4 linked regions of the Homo sapiens genome follow. The protein of the gene in region 3 interacts with the protein of the main gene of each other region in a pairwise test. Each region holds a gene or a part of one and is shown on either strand. Other genes may lie near its edges.

The links.
Region 1: the proteins of RIMBP3 (region 3) and PPIL1 interact in binary tests that used the Homo sapiens proteins (3 or more experiments, as listed by UniProt).
Region 2: the proteins of RIMBP3 (region 3) and A1CF interact in binary tests that used the Homo sapiens proteins (3 or more experiments, as listed by UniProt).
Region 4: the proteins of RIMBP3 (region 3) and TRAF3IP2 interact in binary tests that used the Homo sapiens proteins (3 or more experiments, as listed by UniProt).

The regions. Positions count from the first base shown.
Region 1 is NC_000006.12:36,854,329-36,858,487, forward strand, and holds the end of PPIL1 (peptidyl-prolyl cis-trans isomerase-like 1), read right to left. Parts: intron 2,327-4,159; coding exon 2,258-2,326; intron 1,706-2,257; coding exon 1,485-1,705; 3' UTR 501-1,484; downstream 1-500. UniProt on the Homo sapiens protein: Involved in pre-mRNA splicing as component of the spliceosome. PPIases accelerate the folding of proteins. Catalyzes the cis-trans isomerization of proline imidic peptide bonds in oligopeptides. Catalyzes prolyl peptide bond isomerization in CDC40/PRP17.
Region 2 is NC_000010.11:50,875,179-50,882,862, reverse strand, and holds part of A1CF (APOBEC1 complementation factor), read left to right. Parts: intron 1-7,684. UniProt on the Homo sapiens protein: Essential component of the apolipoprotein B mRNA editing enzyme complex which is responsible for the postranscriptional editing of a CAA codon for Gln to a UAA codon for stop in APOB mRNA.
Region 3 is NC_000022.11:18,605,188-18,609,476, forward strand, and holds the end of RIMBP3 (RIMS-binding protein 3A), read right to left. Parts: coding exon 1,328-4,289; 3' UTR 628-1,327; downstream 1-627. UniProt on the Homo sapiens protein: Probable component of the manchette, a microtubule-based structure which plays a key role in sperm head morphogenesis during late stages of sperm development.
Region 4 is NC_000006.12:111,602,679-111,610,537, reverse strand, and holds the start of TRAF3IP2 (E3 ubiquitin ligase TRAF3IP2), read left to right. Parts: upstream 1-4,659; 5' UTR 4,660-4,762; intron 4,763-7,859. UniProt on the Homo sapiens protein: E3 ubiquitin ligase that catalyzes 'Lys-63'-linked polyubiquitination of target protein, enhancing protein-protein interaction and cell signaling. Transfers ubiquitin from E2 ubiquitin-conjugating enzyme UBE2V1-UBE2N to substrate protein.

The sequences.
Region 1 (4,159 bases), on a different chromosome or scaffold from region 3:
TCATGGGGCATTTTCCCCCTGCATGCTGTTCTCACGATAGTGAGGGAGATCTCATGAGATCTGATGGTTTAAATATGGTGGTTTCCCCCGTGCTCGCTCTCTCTCCTGCCACCTTGTAAAGAAGGTGCTTGCTTCTCCTTTGCCTTCCACCATTATTGTAAGTTTCCTGAGGTCTCCCTAGCCATGTGGAACTGTGAGTCAATTAAACCTCTCTTGTTTATAAATTACCTAGTCTCAGGTAGTGTCTTTATAGCAATGTGAAAACAGATGAATACACCTCTTATTCAGAAATGTCAATTTCTGTCACTTAATTCTTTCTCTGGTTCTGCCCTTTTAAAGTTAGAATTGCTCTTAAAGAGGGAGAAGTCTACTGGAGATCCACAAGCCTAAAATGATGTGAAATCTTGAACATTCAATCTCTGTACTACTACTTAAGATGACTGGGATTAAAATGACCATTGGAACCTCATACAATATTTAGAATCAGACCACAGCAGCAATTTCAACCATCAATGGCATTTTATTGTGGAAGTTTCTATGTATTACATAGGTATTAACTTCCTTCCTCTCCTGCTCCTCCCCACAAAATCCAGAAAGTTATTTTTATACATAAACAACTGAACATATAAAAATCTTGGACCTAATTTCTCTAAAGTCTTGGGTTAAAAGAACTTGAGTGGCGCTTCTCCTTTCTGAGAGTACTACTTCTCAAGGAGGATTCATGGTCTGTCCTTTGCTCACTACAGATTTCTCCTCTTCTCTGGGAAAAAATGGTCAATGCTTCTGCTTCCTTTTAATAAACTAATTTCTTGATTATTATACATTATTATTATTCCCCACTTGACACCTTCTTAGAAACTTGATTGTTGGATGTGTTTTTCATTTGGCAAAAATTCAATGTGGCTTTGCGTGGGATGTCTGAAGTGTCAGAAACAGCACTGTTGATGTTCTGGTTTTGAGAGGGAAAATATATATAGAGATGCATACATTCCCTAGAAGAACAAATGTAAAAGACTGAAATAGGGCGTGCACAGAGTTAAGAGGGCTGACAGACACTACTTGGTTTGGAATTCTGTGGCTGTCAGCCATCAAGGACTGCTGTGTAGGCCAGAATATAAATCTCCTTAGGAAGAAGTTTGGTTAGGCAAAACCACTGAGAAATGACAGTGGCTGCTACATTGTTCGACGTATATCAGAGCAGACATGCACAAGAAGCAGCATTATGGTTCATGTGTAGTAAGTAGTCACCTATTGATAAACAGGGGCATTTGTGCAAATGCTCTGGCAACCTAGGCACTGGGGGAAGAGAAAAGAAGCATCCTATTAAAATGTACTTCCATCTCTAACTCACCCAAGATGCCAGGCCTCCTAAGCTTCATGACTTGCAAAGCCAAAATGAATTTAGCATTACATGTCATTCTATGTCATCTAGAAGCTGGTTCACTGGGGCCATCTCAGAAGAGCTGCTCAAGAGGGTAGCAAGTCTACCCAGAAGGGTATGCCTTAATGATCTTCACGTCGTCCACAGGGCGGTCCTGGGAGTTTGTTTCTACCATTCCCACGCGATTCACCATTCCTATGCCCTGACACACTCGGCCAAAAATGGTGTGTTTGCCGTCAAGCCACTGGGTGGGGGCGAGGGTCACAAAGAACTGGCTGCCATTGGTATCTGGCCCCGCATTGGCCATTGCGAGAATTCCAGCCCCTGGTGGGAAAAAGGAAGAAAGGAAAGAGTATAAATAACCCCACAGGTCCAGTGTAGAGCTGCTGCCCCATCCTAGGGATGAAAAAGCAGCCAGGACTTTGTTCTGGCCTCTGTCCAGACCCAGACAACCCCTCAGGGCAGTCTCTCTGCCCTGTACAAAGGCCATCACTACACTATTCTGGCGACTTCATCTTCCTTGTCCTCACCTATTCCCCAGCCTTGACCCCTGATGCTCCTCACTAACTGTGGACCATGTTCCTGACTGCCCTCAAAAACCCAGCAAGGTTTCCTGTTTCTTTGAGGACACTTTTGATATCCTGTGACCTTTAACAAGTAGTTAGAGTCTAGAACACACCGACCAGTGCTCTGAATTGCTCAGAACTTTGTGAGAGGCGCTGCTTTCTCTAATCCACCAGGGCACTTCATGGCGCCATGGCTGGGCAGCTATCTGGCACCATGCCACGGTGTCAGGCATTCACCTTGAATCATGGCCAAAAGAGTGAGCTTTTAAAATCCCCGTTCCTACCCAGTCCAGCCAAATTATACACTTACCCGTGAATTTCAAGTCTGGATGAAGTTCATCTTCAAACTGTTTGCCATAGATAGATGCACCACCTCGACCTGCCCGATTGGAAGATGACACATGAATCAGCCAGTCACACATTCTATCTCACAGCAAGAATGATGGCCCAGGGTCAAAGGATTTCTCAGAGTAGAGGAAAGGAAAAGGCAGTGACACCTACCCCACTGCTAGGTATATTGCAACTACAGAATCTAGCACTAATAGCACATTCAAATCATTGGTTTCATTCCGATAAGACTTTCCTTTTCAAAATAACGCTATTTTTTCCTGCACATTAAAATAATACATGTTCACTATCAAAAAGGTAGAAAACATAGAACATTATCAAAAGAACATTAAAATCCTCTGTAACCTGACCATCTAGAGATAACCACCATTCATAATCTGATGTGTTAAGAGGTTTCTTGATTTTTAACCTTTTTTTGAGTATTTTAGACATGAGTGCCCCAAGTCCTATCCCTGTGCCCATCACAGACATTGCCAATCAATCAGTATTCTTCCCTGCTGAGCTAGATTTGCCTCTGAATGTTATCAACCCAGAACTCAGGCAGCCGTTATTAATTAATCAGTAATAGCCCCAGAGTTGAAACCTATTTGCCACCCTTAACCTAGGTGATGGAAAATAAAATTCATTTAAGTTAAAGCTATCCAGCTGAAGGAGAAATAGCTGGTAAGTGGCAATGTGGCAGAAAGGGACATTACGGTCGGCAGAGTCCACTGAGAGGTGAGGCAGTACATCATTAAGAGAAAACAGGGCCAGGTGTGGTGGCTCACATCTAAAATCTCAGCACTTTGGGAAGCTGAGGCAGGAGGACTGCTGGAGGCCAGGAGTTTGAGCTGGGCCACAGAGCGAGACCCTGACTCCATAAATTTTTTTTTTTTAGAGATGGGGTCTTGCTACGTTGCCCAGGCTGGTCTCAAACTCCTGGCGTCAAGCAATCCTCCCTCCTTGGCTTCCCAAGTGCTGGGATTATAGGCGTGAACCACTGCACCTGGCTCACAAAAAAATTTTAAAATTCAGCCAGATGTGGTAGCACATGCCTGTAGTCCCAGCTCCTTAGGAGGCTGAGGCAGGAGGACTGCTTTGAGCCCAGGAGTTTGAGTTTACGGTGAGCTATGATCATGTCAGTATACTCCAGTCTAGGCAAGAGGCAAAACCTTGACTCTAAATAAATGAATAAAGGGAAAATGAAGAAACATGGGATTGGGAATTATTTGCTAGCAGCATCACCACCAAATGTTATTTATATTATGCCCACAAGAGCAGGGTGCTGGGCTGGATACCCTAAGCTCAGGCAGGTTTTGCTCTAAGAGCAAAAGGATGTAAGTTAGACCAGGCGCGGTGGCTCATGCCTATAATCCCAGCACGTTGGAAGGCCAAGGCAGGTGGATCACGAGGTCATGAGTTCGAGACCAGCCTGGCCAACATAGTGAAACCCCCATCTCTACTAAAAATACAAAAAAAAAATTAGCCAGGCATGGTGGCACACACCTGTAGTCCCAGCTACTTGGGAGGCTGAGGCAGGAGAATTGCTTGAACCCAGTAGGTGGAGGTTGCAGTGAGCCGAGATCATGCCATTGCACTCCAGCCTGGGCGACAGAGCAAGACTGTCTCAAAAAAAAAAAAAAAAAAAAAAAAAGATGTAAGTTAAACATGGTTTTCTCACAGGAAAACATGTCAAAACAGGAGGCAACTTTCCTAACCAATACTAATCAATTATGTAGTCAATCATATGCCTTACTGAACTACATTGGTTTCTCCAAGTTGAACGGTCACGACAAAACAGCCTAGAACAAAGTAAACACTGGATTGGTACTCTGCTTGCCCTGCAGCCCAGTGCTGGCAGCTCACTTCCTCTACTGCCTGCTAT
Region 2 (7,684 bases), on a different chromosome or scaffold from region 3:
CTTTTAAAAATTGTCATCCCTTAGAAAGCTGAGTAGTACTGTGGGTACTATTGCACAATGGTTTTCATTACCTTATGTGTCTCTAAAATGACTCAATAAGTTCAAACAAGACAGTATTGATCGACAGAGGATAAACACCATTTTATCTTATTCACAGAAACAGTAACCAGGCTCCTGCAAAGTGCAGCTCTCACAATCCAACTGCCCCCAGGAAAAGCATCTGGAAAAGGAGCAGCACTCTTGCGGTGACATTCTGTATTAGAAATCTGTATCCCATCTGCTCCTTGGCCTGATCCTGTAAAATCTGGAGAGTTATTAACAAATGTTTGCTGCTGATTCAACCAGGAAAGCTAGTTCATCATTTCATTTCATCAAATCTACTCCAACTAGGTTATCAGTTTTTTGTTGTTGATGATGGTTTGTTTGTATGAGATGGAGTATCGTTCTGTTGCCTAGGCTGGAGTGGTGGTGCAATCTCAGCTCATCACAACCTCCACCTCCTGGATTCAAGTGATTCTTGTGCCTCAGCCTCCCGAGTAGCTGGGATTACAGGCACACGCCACCATGCCAGGCTAACTTTTGTATTTTTAGTAGAGACGGGGTTTCATTATGTTGGCTAGGCTGGTCTCGAACTCCTGAACTCATGATCTGCCTGCCTCAGCCTCCCAAAGTGCTGGGATTACAGGCATGAGCCAACATGCCCGGTCTAGGTTATCAGTTTTAATGACCACTTAGAATTTTTAATTTAATAAACTAAAATTTTGTATTGAATATTTTTGATTGATGCAATCCAAAAATTAAAACATGCCCTTTTGTAAAAAATCATCGTCCTGTATAAGATATGCTGGTATCTTGAGAGCTCTAATTTGATTTCTTTTAAACATATGTAAGCTAAGATTTTTATCCTATATAGATTTATATGTGGAGTTTTATGCATATATGTATTAACAATCACATGGAGAACATTTTCCAAGTTTGTTTATTCAATAGGAATTGGTCCCTGGTAATATTAAGAGAGAAATACTAATAAGGATGTAAGATAAATCCTTCTGATTTGCACAGTTAAGTGCAATGCTCTGCTCCAGATGTAATATGACTAAAGAGAATTAACACATGACAATTTAGGCAGACAGAATGTCTAAGTGAGCAGATTGGTTTATAATTCTATAAAATCCCACCTGCAGTAGTGATGTAGTGATGCCTTCCCTCCCTCCAGCAATTAAAAACTATTCATTGTTTTAGGATGCCCAATTGATTTAAAAATCACTAGGTTTAAGTAGTAGAACTAACTACAATATCTTATTTCCATAGGATATTCTAGTTTATAAAGCTTTTCATATACAAGAACTTATAAAGATTTTTAATGGCAAATTTCTTATAGTTGATGTCAATTCAGTATGCCTAGTTTCTTCAAGGTAACTGTGTCAATATTCACCATTCCAATTGTACAAATCTGATTAACTGAAAGATGCTCCCACCTATCGTTTATAAGCCCAACTCTGTTTATGTAACACAATGATGTCCAACTTCACTGGACATTAACTAATGTACCTATCAGTTAAGAGGCTAGATGAGGCCGGGCGCAGTGGCTCACGCCTGTAATTCGAACACTATGGGAGGCCAAGGCAGGCAGATCACCTGAGGTCAGGAGTTCAAGACCAGTCTGGCTAACATGACGAAACCCCACCTCCAGAAAAATACAAAAATTAGCCAGGCATGGTGGTGGGTACCTGTAATCCCAGCTACCCAGGAGGCTGAGGCGGGAAAATCACTTGAACCCAGGAGGCGAAGGTTGCAGTGAGCCGAGATCGCACCATTGCACTCCAGCCTAGGCGACAGAGTGAGACTCCACCTCAAAAAAAAAAAAAGAGTCTAAATGAAAACAGTGAAGAGAGGACATAAAGGTCCATGTGGAAGGTGAGAGAAGAACCACCCCCATATGGGACCTAGAAGAAAACAGCCCTAAAAAGATGTAATTATAACTCAGTCCAGATGCTGTGACTAACACAGTGAAAGATATAAAGGAACAGAGGTTTATAAAATCTCCTACCTGCCTGGCAGGGGACTGGCAAAACATTGTGCACAAATGAAATTTTTTATTTCTATTGATTTTAGTATTCTATCCAGCTCTTCTACTGGGATTCTGCTTAGTGCTTATCTTTCCATCTGGGGCCTTCAGCATGAACTAAAATGTACTTTAAATTATTAGATGTAATTAAACTCTAATGCCTCTGATTATTTGAAATGGAAGTCAGAAATCAAAATCAGGTTCCATGGGGGGAAAACTGTGTTGGCACATATAGATGTTCATCTCAGGAATCCTCTTTCTAACCTTCTTTTCCGAAGATCCCTAAGAGTTCCTCGCCATTCATGTACTTACTACCAACTAATTATAATTGGCACCCTACGATGATGATAACAATGATGTTAATAAAATCTCTTACATCCTCTTACATCCTGCCACATGCCAGGCACATAGGTTAACTCATTTAATCCTCCATCACTCTATGGAATGGGTACTATTGCTACGCCATTTTTCCAATAAAGCAGCTACAGCTTAGGGACACAGAGAAATTTGCCCCAGGTCACACCACTAATAAGTGGTGCAGGAGTGAGTCCGGGCAGTCTGGCACAGGCCACCCTGTGAACAAAGGACAAATGGAACACTGGGAAGCATCAAGGCTTAGAACTGAAGAAAACTTTTGAGATCCTTTATTTGACAGAGAAAAGCAAGTTGGGTTCCCCAGCTTGGGTTTTTGTTAGAATGAGAACCCAAGAGCAGAACCTGAACCCTCTGTGGATACTTTTCCATTATACCACTTCCCACTGTAAAGCATTTCTAATTCAGCCTGATTCTCTGTGAAAATTCTGAGAGACGAATTAATAGAATCCCTATAGTTAAACAGGAATACTCCCTTCACTCCAAGTCTCACCTTCCTTGCTGTGCCCAGACTCATGGACTGACCTAGCCAGAGACTCAGTTAAAGGAGACCCATTTTGTGACTTGGAGAGACTGACAGGCCCACATCACAGAGGAAATACATGCAGACACAGACATGGATATGGTTTAGCTTTTTGTCCCCACCCAAATCTCATCTTGAATTGTAATCCTTAGGCCTGAAGGAAAGAATCTGGTGAGAAGTGATAGGATTATGGGGGTGGTTTCCCCCATGCTGTTTTCATGATAATGAGTGAATTCTCATGAGACCTGGTGGTTTTATAAGTGTTTGACTTTTCCTTCTGTACACACTACTTCTCTCCCCTGCTGTCACATAAGAAGGCCTAAGCTTGCTTCCCCTTTGCCTTCCACCATGATTGTGAGTTTCCTGAGGCCTCCCCAGCCATGCAGAACTGTGAGTCAATTAAACCTCTTTCTTTATAAATTACCCAGTCTCAGGTATTTCTTTGTAGCAGTATGAGAACAGACTAATACAGGCACCATGAACATAGTGACAGGATAAACCATGGAGGCATTGATAAAAATAAAAAGTAATTGTGATGAATGACTTGGTTGCAATTACACTCAAATTCTGTTAGTGTCTGAAGAGGACATAGCACCTCCTACCTGGAGGACATACCCTTTTCCCCATGGAAAAAATAATTGGGCTGCTAGGTCTGTGTCTGCTAAGGGAGTCCCATATTTAAACTGACCTAATTCAGAACTTTAAATTGAGACTCAGATGCTCCCAAATAGCAGCTCCACCAACCTGAATAGAGTTACTCATTTAGAATAAGAGTTTGTTCCCACAAGTTTTGTTAAAATACAAATTAGTTGGGATGCGGGGTGTGAGTGATAGGGACTAAAATCGCTTAACAGACTAGCCTGGCAAAGCCCTGTGGGAAGCAAGTTTTGATGATAGGGAAGAGAAGATGTCAAGAGCAGATGGTCCAGGGAGGAAGTGTCACAAGTAACTTGGGGGTGATATAAGGGACTTGAGTAGCAGGTATTTGTCTGATCTTTAAGGAATTAACTTATTAAAGAATTTTGTTAGTAAAGTCATTTGAGTATCACACTTGCAACATACTAATTCATCCATGTCTAGTTTTCTCATTAAATCACAGATATTTAACAGGTGCATTAACTTGAATTGACATCATGCAGCAAATGCCATTATATGGACCCTTAAGATATTTTAAGAGAAAAACCTATAATGCCTGGAAACTCTTAGTTTTCTCTGACATTTAAAAACAAGCCGTAAAATCAAATCCTTTCTATAATAATTTAGTAACTCAGAATTGCAAAGGATTTCCTAAAGCCCAATGATCCAAAGCTCTGACCTGTGATGTTGGCATAGCAGAGTGGGAGACAAATCATATGTTAAAGCAGAAGGCTCTGGATCTGGAATGCTTGGATACAAATTCTGGCTCTACCACTTGCTACAATTTAACTCTAGGCAAATTACTGAACTCTGTGACTATTTCCTCTTCTGTAAAGTCAGGGTTGTTTCAATAATTAGATCAGAAATTGTAAAGTGCTTAGAATAATACCAAGCAAGTGTGCATAAACTTTAGCCATTTAGCTATAACTCTCATCATATTTCTGTGTTGATTACAAAATGCTTTACTAGAGGAAAATAGATGAGAAAGAGGCCATGAGGTAAAAATGTACAGTGCTTTTTAAAGTAGAATGAGGTGGCTTAGAAATTAATTCTATCCCCATCACTGGCTTGTAGTAGAAATTTGAAACAGTCTCTCCCTGATTCTCTGGCAGTTTTTCTCTTTTTTTCTTTTTTTTCTTTTTGAGATGGAGTCTCACTCTGTCACCCAGGCTGGAGTGTAGTAGCGTGATCTCAGCTCACTGCAACCTCCGCTTCCCGGGTTCAAGCGATTCTCCTGCCTCAGCCTCCTGAGTAGCTGGGACTACAAGCATGTGCCACCACAACTGGCTAATTTTTTGTATTTTTGGTAGAGACAGGGTTTCACCTTGTTAGCCAGGATGGTCTCGATCTCCTGACCTCGTGATCCTCCTGCCTCAGCCTCCCAAAGTGGGGGGATTACAGGCGTGAGCCACGGCGCCCGGCCCTCTTTCAGTTTTTTCTAAGACAGAGACACTCCCTATCACAGACAGGGTCTTCTAAATTAGTAGAGAATGATTTGAAGGAAACTGGGTAATTATCAGAGGAAGTAAAAGAGAAATACAGATCCTCACACCAGAATGCAAATCTCTAAGACTTTATTATTTTCATCACTATGAAAGAAAAGATCAGTACTCAAAGCCACTTATGATGATGCATGTAAATTAGCATAAAATCAGAACAAATATAATATGGCTTTTAAAATAGAAACATAAGGCTATCTTTCCTTACAAGTGTCAGATTGCTTCTGTGCCACTGTAACACAGAGCTTTAGATGGATTTTTTAAAGCTTCACTCAGAGATCAAATGTACTCCATTAGTCAGTGATTGGCAGACTTGGTGAAAATTGAGTTTTCAACTTAAATTTCTCCAAATTGGTCTGAGGAAACCAGATGCAGCAACTAAGTTCAGAAGGTCAGAGTCTCAATAAGGTTAAAAAGAGAGGGAGAAACATAACACTAGAAGTATGAATGAATGAAATAGACCACACACAGCTCATCAGGTCTCTATAATATACCACGCAAATAATTGGTACCAGGACTATTGAATAATCAACTGCTTTTAAGCTGAAGAATATCTACATTGTATACCATGATTACCACTTTACCAATTCAAAAGACAACTTAAAAATTAAACATATATACAAAGACATTCTGCTTTTTTCATTAGGCCATGTCATTCTATAATTTCTAAATTCTGTCAACTCTCTTCCCCAGGAATCTTCTAGAAGTCAGGCATTTTGGGAATAGTTGAGTATCATAATTGAATAAAGATAGCACAACAGTCACCTGTAGTAGTCTGATCTTACAGGTACTAGAACAATAACAGCACAAAAACAGAGTTACGTGTATGTATTATTCAGTGTTCTCTAGAAGAAAACATAGTATATGTATATATAGGCAATACATTTATAAATGCATAAAACAAATATAAATTTGTGTAAGTATGCATATAAATATGTAAGTCTACACATATAAATACAAATAAAGAGATTTATTCTATGGGATTGGCTCATGCAATTATAGAAGCAGGAGTCCCAAGATTTGCAGTAAGCAAGCTGGAGATTCAGGGGAGCCCATGCATAGTTCCAGCCCAAGTCCAAAGGCTTGAGACCCAGAAAAGCAATAGTGTAAGTTCCAGTCCAGAAGCCATCAGGTTAGAGACGCAAGAAGAGCCAATATTTCAAGTCCGAAGATCAGGAAAGGCCAATGTCCCTGCTCTGTCATGCAGGCCCAGCTCCCTCTTACTCAGCTTTTATGTTTTATTCAGGTTTTCAATTGATTGGATGAGGCCCACTCACATTGCATCTGCTGTTAAAATTTTCCAAGATCTTTTTGGGGTTAAAAACCTATCATTCATCTCTCAATCTTCAGTGTTGACAAGGACAGAGCACTTATGAGTATTCCTGTTTCTGAGTTTCTGATAAGCTTGTCCAAGTGGAGCACAGGCTGGACAATTTATAAGACAGTATTGAAGTCAGAGCAATTACAAAAGGAAAGGGGTAGGTTTCTTGTGTGATGTGCTGCAAACACTGACCTCTCAGAATTTATTCGGCCCTGTGTGTATATACGTATTCATGTCTGCACATATGTGCTAGTTCACTTATACATCTATACATACACACAATCACATATACCCAAGATCTGATGGAATAGACATGAATTTGGCTTAGCCAGGGAAATTATAGAAAGAATAATGGGAATCCTAGGCATGTGGGAAATGGGAAACAAGGACAAAGGCGCCTAGGTAAAATAAAAAGCAACTGGTGTGCCTAGGAGACCTGATGGACTTGAGCATGGAATAGCTCCAGACTTGTATTGAAAGAAAATCAGGAAAGTCAAGTTACGACCAGGTCATGGCAGGCACTGAATGTCAGGTTAAGGGGCTGAACTGTTTCTTTCTAGTTAGTGATGGGTCCAGTGAAGGATTTGGGGCAGGAGAATACTAGAAGGAATATTTTAGGGAGATTGATCTTCCAGTGGTGTGCAGAACAGATATGCCATGCCTAGAGGGTAGTAAGCAGTGACATTTCTTTCACTCTACACTTTAGCTGAGCTCAGGGTAAGTCCAGTAATGGAAGATGGGGTGGGAAATAGAGCTAGGAGTGTAGAGAGGGCAACAGGTAAGGATACATATGTACCAAAAGCAGAAAACAAGTTAAGATCCAGGCTTCATGAGGTGCCTATATTGAAGATTGCTCTGGATAAAGAGACTGTTAGGACTTCAGAGTTAGAATTCATAGCAATTCACAGAACTGCTCAGGCTCTTCATTATTCACCTGACTCAACTCTCCTACATCTGCTCCTTTCTCCTAAGAGATTTCCTTGCTCTCTGTCCTTTCTCTACCCCACAGCTTTTGCTTCCTTTCCGTACATAGAACCACACAACAAGTACTAGTTTTATGCATGCAGTGGTCATATAAATATCTTATTGGCGAGTCCTCATCAAAACTGAGTTGAAACAAACCATTTGAGCCAGAATTTAGTAAGAGTCAGATTTTTTAAGGTACTTCAAGGATTTTATTTATAAATACAACTAGGAAAACATTTACTCATTAGAAATGATGAAACCATAGACAAAACAATTATTAGAGAAAATTTTGAATTATT
Region 3 (4,289 bases):
TGGGCCTTGCTCCTCAGTCCTGGCTCTTAGTAGGACCCTCTGCAGCCAAACTAGCATATCCTGAGCCAGGCTGACCTTAAAAAGTAAGCATTCAGGGCCTAGGGACCTTGGGCAAAGCAGAGAAGCTGGTGTCAGATGAGGTGCAGCAGGTACAGTAGGATAAGGTGTTCTCAGGTCGCCAGTGCAGCCCCAAGATGAGCCTGCAGTATTTTCCTTACATGATCTGGTCCTACTGTGGGCAGCGCTGCTGCCCAGAGCCTGAGAGGATTATGAAAACATGGCAACGGAAGTGAGGCCAGGGGACACAGCATGGGGGCATGAGGAGCAGGGGACAGCGGGTGGGGCTAGAGGAGAGGGAGGTTTAGGGAGGCCTCTGCTGCTGTGACTGTGAGCCCCAGCCAATGATGACGTGGCCACCGCACAATCTGAGTTCTGGGAACCATGTGATGGAATGTGTTCTGGGAATAGACTGCAGCCAGGAAAAAAAAAGCAGAAGGGTGCACCCTCCCTTCCTCAGCCAGGAAAACATTTCTGTAGCCCTTGCGGACCCAATGCGCAGAAGTGAGAGGGAGGAAAGCCAGGCTCATGTTTCCTTGGTTGTGCTTCAACTTCTAAAATATGTTTTTTCTATGAACATTTTAATGAGGGGTTGGACATAAGACAGAAAAATAACATTCTGAGAGCTCGTTTGGAGGTTCTAGCAGGGGAGCGCAGCTACTCTTATACTCTTGACTGAAGACCGATCGTCCTCTATCGGGGATGGTCATCCTCTTCCATTGAGCACACAGCTTCTGGAGGGACGCACATGGAGTGGTGAGGGAGGAAGGGGATACCCGCCTAGTCAGCCAGATCAGCCGAATCAACCCTGATGATCAATGGGGTGACACATGTCGCAGCCAGATCACCCTCACATCCCAAAAATAACACTCAGATTGCTTTTTCTTTTTTAAGATGTAGACTTTTCTTGAGACTTTCGTACAAGGCAATGGACAGATAACCTTAACCTCCCAGAGAAAACACACATTGGCCACAGAAAAAGGCGCTTCTCCGTATACCTGCCATAGTTATCAGCAACTTTGAAATGGCTTCTCAGACTCTCAGGGGTTGGCTTGTTGTGTTTGCTTTTGCAAATAACTCAGGCTTAAGTCCTGCTACTTTCAGAGCCTAGGGGACGCTTAAGGACTACCATCAGTTTAACACAGTGGCACTTGGAGCACATGCTACTTATGGTGGTGAGGAGGGGTGCTGGTGTGAGGGTCTGAACGCTTGCTTCTCCTCTGGCAGGGTGTGAGCAGCCAGAGGCCACTACCTGGGCAAGGATGCTTGCTCAGTGTCCATGGAGGGACATGTGATCCAGCAGGTGGGCAGGAACCAGGCCCCTGTGGCCGCCCAACTCTCCATAATAGAATCCTTGGTCATCCATGGGCCCGTAAACCATGACCACGTCTCCTGCCCTCAGCGCCAGCCTGCCCTTCCCCTGGCCCCCCATTTGCCCATCCCCAGGATCATAGTCCAGAGCTGCTATCATGATCTTTGGAGTCCACAGTGGGAGTCTCTTGGAGTTCCCCTGGAGCACCAGGGAGGAACCCTGGGGGATGGTGAGCCCCTGAAAGTCCTCGAGGTGGGCCACAGAAGGCAGGTTCCCTTGGGCCGGAGAACGCCACCTCCTATCAGTCTGCTCTGTCCCCACCTCCATCTCAGCCACTAGGCGCCCGGGGATATTGCCCACTTGCCTGTTGCACTCGCTGAGGTAGAAATCATGGGTGTCCTGAGAGCCCCACACTCTTAGCAACTGCCTTTTCTGGAAGACCAGCTCCTCCTCTGCAGCCTTGAGGTTGGCAGACATCACCAGGGGGTTGTAATCAGAGAGGGCCACAAAGACCCTGGCTGGAGTGTTGGCCCCCGTCCCCAGCTGTTGGGGGCCACCCCTGGGCATCTTGATGACTTTGGCGGATGGAGCTGGACACAGTGCCGAGCTGGGCTCATGGAGCTGGCACCCTCTCTTCACCCCCAGAGCTTGTCCTTGCCTGCTGTGGGGCTCAGGCTCCCTCCTCTCCTCTCGCCTCTCTGTGCCCCACAGATCCAAGCACAGTGCCTCCTGCTCCTCCTTCAAAACGTTATGGAAGTCAGATGCATACTGTTGGCTGGCGCCCAGCTGGGGAGGTGTGAACCCTTGGGCATCTTGCTTTTGCCGAAGTACCCTCTCAAGGGCAGCCTTTTCCTGACACGGTTCTTTCCTGGGCCCACACTCGGTGCGTAGATGGATGAATCCTGGAGCAGGGCTTTTGCTGGTGCCCATGTGCTGGGAGCAATTTTCCTTCTCCCCAGGCTGGTCACTGACTGAAGGTGGCCTGTGGTTCTGGGGACTCTTCTGAAAGAGCAGGTCCTTTCTACAGCCCTCCCAGGCCTCTGCAAGCTCCTGGGCTTGGCTGCCAGCCCCTGAACTCGGACATTCTCCTTCTGAGCCCAGGTTGGACACTGGGGATTGCCTCCTTGGGGGTTCTTCAAAGAATGCTTCTAGGAACTTGGCCTGGGGCTCCCCGCAGCTTCCAGGGTTGTGGGGGCTGGCCTTGGCACTCGGAGGAGCCAGTGACAGCTTCTGGGGGCAGACGGGGAAGGTGACTCTGTAGGTGGATGGGTCGCCACAAGTGTAGCTAAAGGGTGGAGTCTCTGGCCATCGGTGACACATGAAGAAGTCCTCGGGGATCTGAGCAGGCACTGAATCCAGGGACTCACCACAGAGTGACATGGTTCTCACTGAGACCTTCTGCCACGTGAGGGGCACCTGTAGCTGGGAGAATTCCAATAGGGTGCTCCCAGCAGTGGCATCGGCGACCTCACAAACCTTAAGCCCATCTGCATACACAGCATAACCGGTGACCTGGACTCCATTGGAGGACCCAGCTGAGTCAATGGTCACAGGGAGCCAGCTGACCACCAGGACACCTGGCGAGGCATGGCGCTCCACCAGCACATCCAGCGGTGGGTAGGGAGGTCCTGCCAAGAGTGTGTCGAAGGTGACGGTGGAGGACATAGTTCCCCAATACACCTGCAGCAAGTCCCGTGGCAGCCGCACCTCCACCCGCGCCCGGTAGTGCGTGCCGGGGCACAGGCCCTGGAAGGTGTAGCAGCTCACGCCCGCTGGGGTCAGGGCATGCTCTCGGTCATCAAGATATACCACATGGGGGTGGCGGTGGCTGCTGTAGACCCAGGTGATGTTGGCTGATGTGGCTGTGACATTCTGCAGGTGTAGCTGCATGGGAGCCATACGGAGCACCCCTTTGGTCCCCAGAAGGGGTCTGGAGAGGCCCTGCTTCCCCATGCTCTGCAGCAAGCCCAGCTGGCAGGCTTCCGTCTTGGTATCCAGGATCTCTGTTGCTACTTCTGTCTTGGAGCCCACCCTGACCATCTGGCACAGCCCTCTGTCCACCACTCCCTGGGCTTTCCCAGATAATAAGCTGTCTTCCTCCAGAGCTTCATCCTGCCCCGCTGGGAGTTGACTGGGGCCAAGATCAGGGGATTTGGCAGGCAGGCAGCCTGGGATGTAGCTGTCCGGAATCTGCTCCACGAAGTTGGAGGGCACCAGCCCCCGCCGGCCATCCTCAAGCTCCCCCTCATAGAAGCCATCCTCATCCATGTCCCCGAAGATATATATGTAGTCCCCAGCTGTGAGGGGCAGCTCACCCTCAGGGTGATCATTGGGCCCCTCAAATGGGTTGTAGTTATACTGAGCCATGAAGATCTTGAGCTTGGGGGCAGCAGGAGCCGCCGAGCCCCCCATTTCCAGGGCCAGGGACACGCTGTCAGGCTCCAGGTCATCCACCTCACTGGCTGTGTCCCTGTCCAGAGTAGGGGAGGACGGCACGGTGGCCCACATCGACCCCTCAGAGGAGGAGTTTGACTGGGAGCTGGTTTTCTTGGACAGAGGTTGGCTGGCAGGGACTGTCTCTGAAACTTGGGGGACACTGGCTGACTCCCCAAGGGCAACTGGGCTCTCCTCGAGGGAGGCTTCCCTTTTCTCCTGTATGTCTCTGTTGGGCTGTGACACTGCGTAGTCTTCAGGCCGTGCGTGGAACTTGGGCCTTCTGCTACCTTTAACTTGGGACTCCGGCATTTGACTGGTCTCCCAGGGCTGTTCAGGAGGGTGACCAGGCCGACACTGGAGCGCCTGTATCTCCTTCCAGGAAGGATGGAGGTCACACAGGGCCTTCTGCGGGTCGCGTTGCAGCTGCTGCTGCCTGTCCTGCCCGCGCGCCGCCTGCTGCAGCAGCTGTTCGGCGATCAAGCCG
Region 4 (7,859 bases), on a different chromosome or scaffold from region 3:
GCCTCCATAATCACGGAGGTAATCCTGTTGATTCTCTCTCTGCAGAACCCTGACGAATTCACTGAGCAAACTCTAGGATCTGGCAAACACACATGCTCCCCTTCTAGATTTCTAACAAGAGAGAGAAGACTGACCCACATCTTGACTATTCTATTTATGATCTGTACAGCAATCCTTACATATAAACACAGCACCAGGCTGTGGCACAGTCACAACCCCACCCTTTTATTGTCTACACCTTTTTTTCCCTTCTTAAGCGTTGTCAAGAGTTGTGCAAAGAAAGTGTGTTACCTGTGCTCCACCCAAGCATGTAGGAAGAACAGATGGCAACAGGGCAATGGAGGGTAGGGGTTGGGGGGCTGTGGCGGGGTGCAGGGAGGGGGCAGTAATAACATCCACCTGGAAGGGAGACTGCTCTGGGCTTGACTCCTCCATAGATGAGCTGTGTGACCTTGCAGAAGTTACTCAGTATCTCTGAGCCTCAGAGTCCTCAAAGTTAAAGTGGGAATGACAGTAAACACACCTCACAGGACTGTTTGGAGGATGAGATATGCTCAAAGGGAGTGTAGGGTAGGTCCTCAGTGAAGAGTTGCTCTCCCGTGACAGCAATTCAAAAGCTGTGTGTGTTCGCCTGGGTCACCTGTACTTCACCATAACTGCCTCAGGCAGGTTCAGAGGAGATTTCTCCTGTTCAGGACACCCTCTCTAAACAGTGGCCATCCTCAGGCTGCTTTTCAGCCCGGAGCCCCAGCAGAGGCTTCTAAGAGGGAACCATGAACTCATTCCCTGAAGTGCCTGCCTTTCTGCTCATGATAAATTTAGACAGGAGGCGAGCGGATCACCTGAGGTCAGGAGTTTGAGATCAGCCTGGTCAACATGGTGAAACCCCGTCTCCACTTAAAATACAAGAAAATTAGCTGGGTGTGGTGGCAGGCACCTGTAATCCCAGCTACTCGGGAGGCTGAGGTGAGAGAATTGCTTGAACCCAGGATGCAGAGGTTGCGGTCAGCCGACATCGTGCCATTGCACTCCAGCCTGGGAGACAAAGCAAGACTCCGTTTCAAACAAACAAACAAACAAACTGTAGACAAGAGGAAGGCCCAGCCAACAGCAATGAAAAGCAGCACTTCGGCACTTGTGTTCTTCCTACAGGGCTCTTAGGTCTCACACCCAGGAAAACAGTTGGTGGAGAACTGGAGAAAAGTTTCCCTTTGTTCTCCCTGGCGGGTTGTATTTCAGAGGTGGTACTCGGCAGAGCATCTTCAGGCCTTTCCCAATCCATTTAAGGACAACAAAGAGAAATGAAAAATATTTCCATTCCTGCTCCCCTCGCTCTCCCTGCTAGCTCCTCCCCTTGCCATTCTTCTTTGCTTTTCCGTTCCCATTTCCTAACTCCAGTAGCTCTCTCAAAGTATCCTGGTACCAACCGGACCACAGAAAATGCTATTTTTTCCTACCCTCCAAAAGATGACTCTAATAATAATTTTGAAGCAGAAACTTCAAAGCCAAGGTAATAAAACTTTTTTAAAAAACTTCATTCTTTTAAATGAAAAAGTCCTACATGTTATTGTGAAAAAAAGAATCAAATAGTCCATATGTATATATCATAAAGCCCTCTATCCTTATTTATTTTCCTCAATCGCATTCCCTTGAAGTGAGCACCACTAAACAGTTTGGCATACATCTTTCCAGATATTTCTAACTTGGTCACTGAACAGATACACAGTGATTGCCCACAATGTCCTAGGCAGGGCAGTGTGCTAGGTCCCCTGGGGCCCAGTGGTGAGCAAACACAAATCTATATGTTGGGCTGGGTGCAGTGAGGCACACGTGCAATCCCAGCATTTTGGGAGGCTGAGGTGGTGTAGGGTCCAGCCCCACAGGGTCAGTGGGTCTCTCTCCGTGTGTGGAGACGAGAGAGTGTAGAAATAAAGACACAAGACGAAGAGATAGAAGAAAAGACAGCTGGGCCCCGGGGACCACTACCACCAATGCGCGGAGACCGGTAGTGGCCCCGAATGTCTGGCTGCGCTGTTATTTATTGGATACAAAGCAAAAGGGGCAGGGTAAAGAGTGTGAGTCATCTCCAATGATAGGTAAGGTCACGTGGGTCACGTGTCCACTGGACAGGGGAACCTTCCCTGCCTGGCAGCCAAGGCAGAGAGAGAGAGGAGACAAAGAGAAAGACAGTTTATGCCATTATTTTTGTAGATCAGAGACTTTTAGTACTTTCACTAATTTACTACTGCTATCTAGAAGGCAGAGCCAGCTGTACAGGATGGAACATGAAGGCGGACTAGGAGCGTGACCACTGAAGCACAGCATCACAGGGAGACGGTTAGGCCTCCGGATAACTGTGGGCAAGGCTGACTGCTGTCAGGCCCTCCACAAGAGGTGGAGGGGCAGTCTTTTCTAAACTCCCCCGGGAACCCCTTTCCCCGTCTGCTAAGTAGCGGGTGTTGTTCCTTGACGCTTTTCGCTACCACTAGACCACGGTCCGCCTGGCAACAGGCGTCTTCCCAGATGCTGGCATCGCCGCTAGGCCAAGGAGCCCTTCTGGTGGCTCTGTCTGGGCATAACGGAAGGCTCGCACTCTTGTCTTTTGGTCACTTCTCACTGTGTCCCCTCAGCTCTTATCTCGTATGGCCTGGTTTTTCCTAGGTTATGATTATAGAGCAAGGTTTATTGTAATATTGGAATAAAGAGTAATTGCTACAAACTAATGATTAATGATATTCATATATAATCATATCTAAGATCTATATCTGGTATAACTATTCTTGTTTTATATTTTATTGTACTGGAACAGCTCGTGTCCTCGGTCTCTTGCCTCGGCACCTGGGTGGCTTGCTGCTCACAAGGTGGGAGGATCCCTTGAGACCAGGAGTTCAAGACCAGCCTCAGCAACACAGGGAGACCTGTCTCTAGAAAAAATTTAAAAATTAGCTAGGTGTGGCGGTGTGCACCTGTAGTCCCACCTACCCGGGAGACTGAGGCAGGAGGATTGTTTGAGCCCAGGAGGTCAAGGCTGCAGTGAGCTATGATTGCGCCACTGCACTCCAGCCTGGGCAATAGACTGAGACACTGTCTCTTAAAAAAAATCGATATACATATCTATGTGTGTGTATATGTCACATATATTGGCAAAAAATAAGATAATACTTTTAGTTAAATAATATCTCAGAGCCACTTTTTCATGTTAGTGGCTCAGATAATACATACATATTGATGATTTTTAATAGCTGCATCATTTTCTGCAAACCAAATGCAAACAACCTGTGTATACTGTGTTAAAAACAAGCTGCATTTTCTCTGCTTGTGGAATGTTGAGCAACCTGCTTCCTGTATCCTGCTTGAGCAGAACCTGGTACAATCTGAACAGGGATGCTCTGGGGCCTGTCCCCTTGATGAGAGTAGAGAGATAGCCGGCTGAGTGGACTGACACTTGGACCCCTTCAACAGGCAGACAAGTCCAGCACCAGGAGCATGGTGTGTCTGCCCAGGGCGCCCAGCTGGCCAGTGACATGGCTGAGTTCGTACCCAGGTCCTCCTGACTCCAAAGCTCCAGCTAACACTGCTCCCATTACTGACTGCTGCCCCGAAAGGCAGTTGTCTCTCTCTCTCTCTGTTCACATCGCTGGGTATCATCCTGCCTGCAGCGCTCCTTCATGCAATAAATTCTGCAGGCTACTGATTAAACAATGGGAAGGAAAGGGGAGAAAAAAAATCTTGAGGTCAGGAAAATGCAGCCAGAGGAGGTTAGTGTGCATGTGTGCATGTGTATGTATGTGTGTGTGTGTGTTCTTAAAATTAACCACTTTTTTTGTGCCTGACAATAGGGTGGTGTGTGTGCACAAGCCACAGGCATGTGTATGCTGTGTGTACACGTGTGTCCAGGAGCATGGTCAGTGAGCCCCCCCCCACCCCCCCAGTGGTTATGGGCAGCAAATACTGATTTTTTGGGTTTTTTTAAATTTTTTTTTTGAGACGGAGTCTTCGCTCTGTCGCCCAGTCTGGAGTGCAGTGGCGATCTCGGCTCACTGCAAGCTCCACCTCCCGGGTTCACGCCATTCTCCTGCCTCAGCCTCCCGAGTAGCTGGGACTACAGGCGTCCGCCACTACGCCCGGCTAATTTTTGTATTTTTTAGTAGAGACGGGGTTTCACCTTGTTAGCCAGGATGGTCTCGATCTCCTGACCTCGTGATCCTCCCGCCTCGGCCTCCTAAAGTGCTGGGATTACAGGCGTGAGTCACCGCGCTCGGCAATGCTGATGTTTTAAGCAGTTAGAGGAGGTGGAAGAAGCTCGACTCCCTCTTCTTCCCCATTATCTGCCCACAATCCCCTCCTTTGGAGCTGCTAATGATTACTAATTCTTAACATTCGAGTTCAATCTCCTCCCGGAGACACCCTCCCAGGCGAGGGCACTGCGACTACACTGAGGTTCTGCCCACTCCTGGGCAGCTTCTTAGCTGGGTGGCGAAAACAAAAATGCCGCCTAATTGGTCACTGGCCCTTTCTCATGAATGAAGGAGGTTTCTGTTTTAAGAAATAAAGTGACTCCTCAGCCGTTGATTCACTGCCCACAGGGAGATTTTGAGCAGAGGCTTCCTAGGCTCCGTAGAAATTTGCATACAGCTTCCACTTCCTGCTTCAGAGCCTGTTCTTCTACTTACCTGGGCCCGGAGAAGGTGGAGGGAGACGAGAAGCCGCCGAGAGCCGACTACCCTCCGGGCCCAGTCTGTCTGTCCGTGGTGGATCTAAGGTAAGTTATTCGGAGTTGCCACTTGCCTGGTCTTATTTCTTCACCTCTGACCTATTTCCCAAAGCACGCTGTTTCTCCTTTACTGAAACATTCTGCCTCTACTTTCCTCTGTGTTCGTCTCCCCTCCTTTAACTTGTTCGCACAGAGACCATCTTAGCTGAGAAAATGACAGTGAAGTTTGTGCTGCAAGGATGTGTTGCTAGTATAGTATTTCAGGCCAGCGAGCCCCGCCGGGTTAACCCTTTGAGGAGAGGAGGCTCGCACACGGGGACAGCTCGGAGCTGCCTGGGAACCATTCGTTTGGGTACTTAGTGTCCCCACAAGTTTCTCTCAAGAATTCAAGCCCCACTTCTCCAAAGAGAGAGCCAGGGATGGCAAAGATTAAGTAATTGGCTTTCAGCCCCAGAACACGTCAGTGGCAGTTTTCTCAATCCTTGTTTCGTGCAGGGGGGAAAAAAATCAACAGCACATTTTTGGGCCAGGAAGTTCTGCTGAGCTCTGTGCTGGCTGTGAGCCGCCTCCCGGCCCCTCTCCGCAGCCGCCCTCCAGCCCTCCCAGCCTGGCGCTGGACGGAGCCTTTGGGAACAAGGGGGAGAAATGCCAGAACTTGATCTTAGAAGCTAATCAAGCTTCTTGTGACTTTCAAGTTCAAGATGGTATCTTAGAATAGGGGGATTTTTTTTTTTTTAAAGGAACAGGAGAACAAGAGGCCAAATTTTTTAAAAGGACAAGAAACTTGGTTTCAAGTTCTTCACTTCTTGTGGTTCCATGACTTAGGCAATTCACTCTGACTCCACTAAGCCTGGATTTCTTCATCAGTAAATTGATGGGGGGTGGTGATCTAACATGAGTGTGTCAAATTCCCTTATAAAACAAAGCCAGGATAGTCCCAGAGGGGTAGTGGTAATGGGTGGTCTTCAAGACTTGTTTTGTTTACCGATTATTCACATATTTTAATTTTACCTCCCACTACCAGTTGGTTACCCCCTTGAGGAAAGGACTTTGTTTCCTGATATTTTTCTACCTCCCAGAATCCAGCATGCTACCAAATGCCTAGTAGGTGCTCACCCCCCTTCCATGTCAACTGCTTTGATTTCTGTTTCACTCGTCTGCTCTCAAGGCAAGAGGTAAAGCAGCAGTCAGGGCGAAAGGCTGGGAGACACGTGTCTCTGCGGGAGGGCTGCCTGGAATTGAGGCCTTATTACTGGCTCTAGCCAAATAGGAGAAAACAGGGAGTTTCTCGAATTAGTTCATGTCCCATTTGGGTTACCCAGGAAGGATAGTCTGTGCTATTGTCCACAGAGTCAAGGCAGGCCAGAGAACTGGCAGACAAGCCCAGCTCCAGAAGCCAGAGTTACTGCTGTAGCTGGACCTGGAAACCACTCCTCAGCTGGACCAGTCACTGTGTGTGGGGCCTTTAATGGGAGGGGAAGGGAAACTATGAAACACATCCTAATACCATGTAAGGGTGATGACTGTGATTAGAGACATTATTAGATGGCGGATACACAGAATCCTTAACTTTTTCCAGACCGTGACTTAAAAAAAAATTGTCATTGTTTCTTTTTGGCAATTACTTGCCATCAATACAGTTCAAACAGGCCCTAGCTGACTGGGATGGGCTGGTGCAGGACTTTTGGTTTCTGTGGGATGTCCTGGTGTAGTCCGTGTCATGTTTTTAGGCATTTCTCTCTATTCCCCTGGGATGAAAGGACAGGAATTTCAAGATATTTCACCTGCAATGAGTTCCTGATTTTATTTTCAAACAACGATGCACCATTATCTGAAAGCAGGCTAACTGTTGTGCACTTGCCAGCCTCGCTCTAATCCTTAAAGGCCACACACCACAGTCATTCTTAATCTGCTGCTGCAGCTACCAGTCACTCCATGATGGAGCATCAAAAGATGGATAATGTAGTTACTCTGCTCTGTTCCTTGCATGGGGTGGGTTAAACAGAAGTGAGGTCTGAGTAATGTACCAACATGTCGGATAGAAAGGTTCTTAACTCAGGGTTACTCATTTTTGGAAGGTGTAGAGACAGGAAATGTTAAAGCCTGCTTCTCCTGGGATTAAGGAGTTAGTGACTTTCAAATGCTCTGAAAAGAAAAAGAAGAGGAGAAGACAGTCATATCTGCAGGCATTCTTCAACAGGCATTCAGAAAGATTATGGTGGGGTAGTTTGTCTAAATGAAATCTTTGTTTTACACGTTGTAGAATGGAAATCTCAGGAATATCCTGAATTCAAATCATTTTTCTTCTGCAGGCAATTTTAAATTAGCTTCTAAAAACATATATGAATTGCAGGCAACTGCTGCAGAAAAAAAAGAGTGAACACAGATGAGGCATATTCAACTTTAAATTCCTTTCAGATCCAATGAAATGACCCCTAATGTTTGATCACATTTCCTTATCAAAACAATCCTGCAGTCTGAAGGATTTTTCCATGAGAAAGTGTCTGAGGACTGGAATCAAGAAGCTGCCCCCCGGGCCTCTCCTGTTTCTTCCCAATGCGTTGTCACCAAGATATTTTTAGTTCATGAAACTCAGGCTGTCCTTTCTCCCACTTATGGTCTTTGCCTCCCGTGCCCAGCAGGCCTCCTAGAAGCACACATGTGCTTGGCTGTGACTACTCAGCTCACTCTGTAGCTGTGTGTGCACGCCTTGTGTGTGTGTGTGTGTGTGTGTGTGTGCACACCTTGTGTGTGCACAGACCTTCCCGGATACCAGGAGTTGTAGACTGGCTGAAGAAGGGTGGGCTTCCATCCATGGGGTGATCCTTAGGTCTGTGCTGGTTTGGCTTGGTTCCCTGATAAGGCAGCTGAACTCAAGCCCTTTAGGAGGGCCAGGACTGACCGGAGCTCCCAGCCTGTGCCCCTCTCCTCGCACCCCACAGGCCGCACCCCACAGACTGAGGCTGCCTGGGGTCTTGGCAGCTCCCTCAGCAATGAGGGATACTTGCTCTCCGCTGCCTCATTGTTTCCCTGCAGTCAGGATGCCAGTGTTTTTTCCCTTTCCCCTTCCCAGAGTCAACAGGTCTCCCTCCCCGCTCTGAACTCTCTTCCTACTCTGAGCTGTCTGTCCAAACTCTTCCTGGCC